2 separate regions of the Homo sapiens genome follow, and region 1 is linked to region 2. Evidence: fine-mapped expression QTL. Tissue or cell type: cerebellum. Region 2 holds a variant in brackets; the other region holds the start of a gene. All regions are shown on one strand. Distances are between the middles of the regions.

The links. PIP is the estimated chance that this variant, and not a neighbour inherited with it, causes the effect.
Region 1: CAMKK1 starts here. The variant in region 2 is fine-mapped to the expression of CAMKK1 in cerebellum (GTEx, PIP 0.99). The same link has a PIP of 0.9 or more in cerebellar hemisphere.

What each region holds. Positions count from the first base shown.
Region 1 is chr17:3,891,788-3,894,468 of GRCh38, reverse strand. It overlaps CAMKK1 (calcium/calmodulin dependent protein kinase kinase 1), which reads left to right and starts at 1,416. Exons shown (of 16, transcript NM_032294.3): 1 at 1,416-1,530. RefSeq lists silencers at 970-1,509, 1,540-1,719, 1,860-2,109.
Region 2 is chr17:3,861,082-3,863,762 of GRCh38, reverse strand. It overlaps CAMKK1 (calcium/calmodulin dependent protein kinase kinase 1), which reads left to right. Exons shown (of 16, transcript NM_032294.3): 16 at 1,480-2,681. The coding sequence ends at 1,552. Among named protein-coding and RNA genes, the nearest start is that of NCBP3, 16 kb to the right of the region's middle. The variant G/C (reference allele first, on the strand shown) is at 1,458.

The DNA of each region.
Region 1 (2,681 bases), 31 kb before region 2:
GCAGACCCTCTGCCCTCTTCTTCATCCTTTTCTCCACTCCACTGCCTGGAATGCGTTATGTGATTGCTGGAGCTCTAGCTGGTATCCTGAACCATGAGGTCAAAAGCCACACTCAAGTTGCTGGAATTATTCATTCAACAACATCCACTGAGCACCTGTGCCATGCGACAGGCTGTGTGCTGGACGAATCAGGCACAGTGCTTGCCATCCAGGAGCTCCCAGTCCCAATGAGGAACCAGCAGGTAAACAGATGCCAGGTACAAGGAAGTACCTGGGTGGGGCCACTAACCCATGCTGGAAGTGGGGAGGTCATGGAGAAGGTTTCCAGGCAGAAGTAGGATTGAATTGAACCCTGAAAGACGAGTAGGCGTTAAACAGGCAGGTGGCTGGGAGTAAGGCTATACAGGGCTTGATTAGACCTATTCTCACGGTGAGCCATAGAAAATGCCTCTCGGTGGACTTGTGTTCCTGAAAACTTGCTCTGGGTGCCAGGGAGAGAAAGGCTAGTAGGAGGTGAGACTGGATGGGGCTGGAGGCCAGGGAGGAGGCTGCTGCAGCAATCAGGGACAAGATGGTGGTAGCCTGAGCTAAGGGAGGGGAAGTGGGGTGGAGAGGAGTGGGCCGATTCCAGGGATAGTTAAGAGGCAGTATGGCAGGGCCTGGAGATGGACTGGTTGGAGCAGGAAACAGGGAGGCAGCAGGTGACTCCCAGGCTCCTGGCTCCACTTCGAGACAGGGACGCAGGAGGTTAGATTTGGGGGAAGGATATGGGGCAAGTGGTGGTGCCAGAGGATTCACACGCGGAGGCGTTAGGGGAAGAGGTGGCGGCAGAGTCCCCAGGAACAGCCACAGCGAAGGTCACCTCACTGTCCTGCTGAGTTCCCTCTACTCCCTCGGCCCTCGCTAGGCCATTCCTGTCGCCGGCTCACCGAGCAAGCACTTCACTCTGTGCTAAGCCACCTCTCGGCCTCTCTGCCCCCGCCCCGCAGAAGCTACACTCCTGGGCCTGCCATTCAAGGCCTTCCTCCCCGGGCCTCGCCCCTCCCTCGCACGCACCGCGCCTCGCCCGGGAGGGAGGGGCGCTCTGGCTCCTGCAGGCCGGGATGGGGGCGCAAAGGGTTTGGCGGGGAAGCACGGTCCCCTGCAGGCCCAGGAGAAGGGCCCACGCCGCGGCCGGGAGGGACTTCGGGGACCCCAGGACGCCGGGGGCGTGGCGAGGTCGGCCCCGCCGCAGGGGAGGGAGGGCCCCTACCGCGCCGCCCACCGCGGTCCCTTAGTCCAGGAGGGGGCGGGAGTCCCGGGCTCCGATTGGGCGGCGCTGGCGGGGCCGTTCGCTCCGACCAATGAGCGCCGGCCGGGCGCGGCGGTGGGCGGGGCAGCGAGCGCTGCCCGGAGCCGCGGCGCCCGCGGGCTGAGCTCGGCGATCTGGGCCCCAGCGAGGCGGTGGGGCGGGGCGGGGCGGGGCGGGGCGCGCAGCAGGAGCGAGTGGGGCCGCCCGCCGGGCCGCGGACACTGTCGCCCGGCGCCCAGGTAGGGATCGGCGGGGCGGGGACGCGGGCGAGGAGCAGGAGGACGAACGCCTTAACACCTGCCCCGAGCCTGCAAGGGAGAGGCGGGGGGGGTCTGCCAGGCCGCGTCTACGAGGGAGCTGGGATCTGGTCAGGGCGGGGATCCTTCCCCTTCTGTCTGCGGGGCCGGGTCTGCGGGGTGCCTCGCGGAGTCTGCTCGGGTCTGCGCCGGCCGCCGGGACCGCATCGCCGCGGGTGCCCCGCCGTCTGCGTTCTTCCCCGCTTCTGTCTGCGGACCGCATCCATCCCCGGTGCACTGTCCCCCGCGCCCGGCTCCTGGTGGAGGCCACGTCTGTGCGGAGTGGGCCCGGCCCGGGGCACCCACGTGCGGTTCTCCGCGGAGCGCTCCTCCCACGGCCCGCCGGAGCGTCTTCCTGCAGGAGCCGGGGGCGGGGTGGGAGATGAATGGGGCGGCGGCGGCGCGCGGCTCAGGCTGCGCAGGGTCCTGCCTTGGCTGGGGCGAGAGGGGGCGGCAGAGGCGGGCGCTGCGGCTTCGGGGCCCGGGAGGCGCAGGGCTGGTGGCTGGGGGGGTGTCCACGTGCGCAGGGACCTGCGTGTGCTGTTTGGAGGCGGGTGTGCGTGTGTCACGTGGACGCGGGAGTGTGCCTGTGTCTGCGTGGGGGGTGCAGGACAGGATGGAGTGGTGTGTGAGGGCGGGTCACGCGGACACGGGCGTGTGCCTGTCAGGGGAGGGGGTGTGCTCAAGTCTTGGCGTTGCAGGGCTGTGCAGAGAAGGCTGTGTCACAGGCCACAGGACCGGGCCTTGGTGGTGTCCGCAGGGCGGGCACAGGAGTGTGGGAGGGGCACACAGCCTGTGCGCGCTGGAGGATCCCAGGGAAGTGGCGCTGGCCTCCCCAAGCCCTGCCCTCTTTCCTCCAGTACATACAAATTGACCCCCCACTGCGTCCCAGGCGCACACACTCTGGGGACCCTTCGCCTCTTCCTCGGTCTCCCACCGTCAGTCCTCACAGCAGCCATGGGAGTCGTTTTAAACCTCACCTAACCGAGGCACTCCCCTGCTCACAACCTCCCCCTGGCTTTGGGGGCCTCCTGGGCTCTGTCCACCAAGCTCTCCCCACCCCCAAACCAAGCCCGGAGTCCCAGCCAGGAAAT
Region 2 (2,681 bases):
AGAATTCTGTGACCCAAGTTTAATTTGGGGTAGAGCTTTTTAAAAAAAAAATAGAGATGGAGTCTTGCCATGTTGCCCAGGCTGGACTTAAACTCCTGGCCTCAAGCCATTTGCCCACCTTGGCCTCCGAAAGTGCCAGGTGATTACAGGCATGAGCCACCACACCCAGCCTCCACGTTTAACTTTGAAAGAAGATTTTACTTCATCATCAAGTCCCAATATTTATCCTTGATAGACTGCTTTGGTTTTTTGTTTGTTTGTTTTGAGATGGAGTTTCACTCTTGTTGCCCAGGCTGGAGTGCAGTGGCGCAAACTCAACTCACTGCAGTCTCCGCCTCTCACATTCAAGCAGTTCTCTTGCCTCAGCCTCCCAAGTAGCTGGGATTACAGGTGCATGCCACCACCACACCGGCTAATTTTTGTATTTTTATTAGAGACGGGATTTCACCATTTTGGCCAGGCTGGTCTCAAACTCCTGACCTCAGGTAATCTGCCCACCTCAGCCTCCCAAAGTGCTGGGATTACAGGCGTGAGCCACTGTGCCCGGCCATAGAGTTTTTTATACTTTGGGATAATTGTAGAAACTCAGTAGTAGAGTTAAGTGGAGTTGGTCCTTTTTAAAGATATCAAAACCCATTTACTGGTTATTTTAAAAAGAGACATTTTGGGAGGAAAACTAGATATAGAAATCTGTTGAATATGTGACAGAATCCCAAGACTGATAGATGGACTCTGCCCTGTGAACAAGGCAAAGAAAAATGCAAAATGAAAGCCTCTCTACCCAGATCTGCTGGGGGATGACTGAGGTCAACACAGAAGGCCCTCAGGCCGGGCACGGTGGCTCACGCCTGCAATCCCAACACTTTAGGAGGCTGAGGTGGATGGATCGCTTGAGCCCAGGAGTTTGAGACCAGCCTGGGCAACATGGTGAAACCCTGTTTTTATAGAGATAAAAAAATACAAAAATTAGCTGGGCGTGGTGGCATGTGCCTGTAGTCTCAGCTACTCAGGAGGCTGAGGTGGGAGGATCGCTTGAGCCTGGAAGGCAGAGGTTGCAATGAGCTGAGATTGCACCACTGCACTGCAGCCTGCACGACAGAGCGAGACGCTGTCTCAAAACAACAACAAAACCACACACACAGAGAGAAGGCCCTTGATTAGGCTGATAGTTGGAGGATGTAGGGAAGTCAGCTGGGTCAGACTGTGAGCAGCTCCAGAGGCCGTGCTGGGAGGTTTAGACTTCATCTCTGGTCAATGGGGGGCCACGGAGGCGTTGCGGGCTGAGACTGGGGGCTGAGAGACCGGCAAGGAGCAACTGCCGTGATGTAGGGAGGCCAGAGGGAGGCCAAGCTTGGGGCAGTGGGTGAAGGGGGCTTTGAGAGATGTGGGATTCAGATTCCTGTGTGTGTGAGGGAGAGTGTCTCCCTGAGTGCATATTCTGACCCTGAGGTCCCTCT[G/C]TCCCTGGTGTCCCCTGAACAGGAAAGAAGGGTTTGGTGAAGGGGGCAAGAGCCCAGAGCTCCCCGGCGTCCAGGAAGACGAGGCTGCATCCTGAGCCCCTGCATGCACCCAGGGCCACCCGGCAGCACACTCATCCCGCGCCTCCAGAGGCCCACCCCTCATGCAACAGCCGCCCCCGCAGGCAGGGGGCTGGGGACTGCAGCCCCACTCCCGCCCCTCCCCCATCGTGCTGCATGACCTCCACGCACGCACGTCCAGGGACAGACTGGAATGTATGTCATTTGGGGTCTTGGGGGCAGGGCTCCCACGAGGCCATCCTCCTCTTCTTGGACCTCCTTGGCCTGACCCATTCTGTGGGGAAACCGGGTGCCCATGGAGCCTCAGAAATGCCACCCGGCTGGTTGGCATGGCCTGGGGCAGGAGGCAGAGGCAGGAGACCAAGATGGCAGGTGGAGGCCAGGCTTACCACAACGGAAGAGACCTCCCGCTGGGGCCGGGCAGGCCTGGCTCAGCTGCCACAGGCATATGGTGGAGAGGGGGGTACCCTGCCCACCTTGGGGTGGTGGCACCAGAGCTCTTGTCTATTCAGACGCTGGTATGGGGGCTCGGACCCCTCACTGGGGACAGGGCCAGTGTTGGAGAATTCTGATTCCTTTTTTGTTGTCTTTTACTTTTGTTTTTAACCTGGGGGTTCGGGGAGAGGCCCTGCTTGGGAACATCTCACGAGCTTTCCTACATCTTCCGTGGTTCCCAGCACAGCCCAAGATTATTTGGCAGCCAAGTGGATGGAACTAACTTTCCTGGACTGTGTTTCGCATTCGGCGTTATCTGGAAAGTGGACTGAACGGAATCAAGCTCTGAGCAGAGGCCTGAAGCGGAAGCACCACATCGTCCCTGCCCATCTCACTCTCTCCCTTGATGATGCCCCTAGAGCTGAGGCTGGAGAAGACACCAGGGCTGACTTTGACCGAGGGCCATGGACGCGACAGGCCTGTGGCCCTGCGCATGCTGAAATAACTGGAACCCAGCCTCTCCTCCTACACCGGCCTACCCATCTGGGCCCAAGAGCTGCACTCACACTCCTACAACGAAGGACAAACTGTCCAGGTCGGAGGGATCACGAGACACAGAACCTGGAGGGGTGTGCACGCTGGCAGGTGGCCTCTGCGGCAATTGCCTCACCCTGAGGACATCAGCAGTCAGCCTGCTCAGAGCGGGGGTGC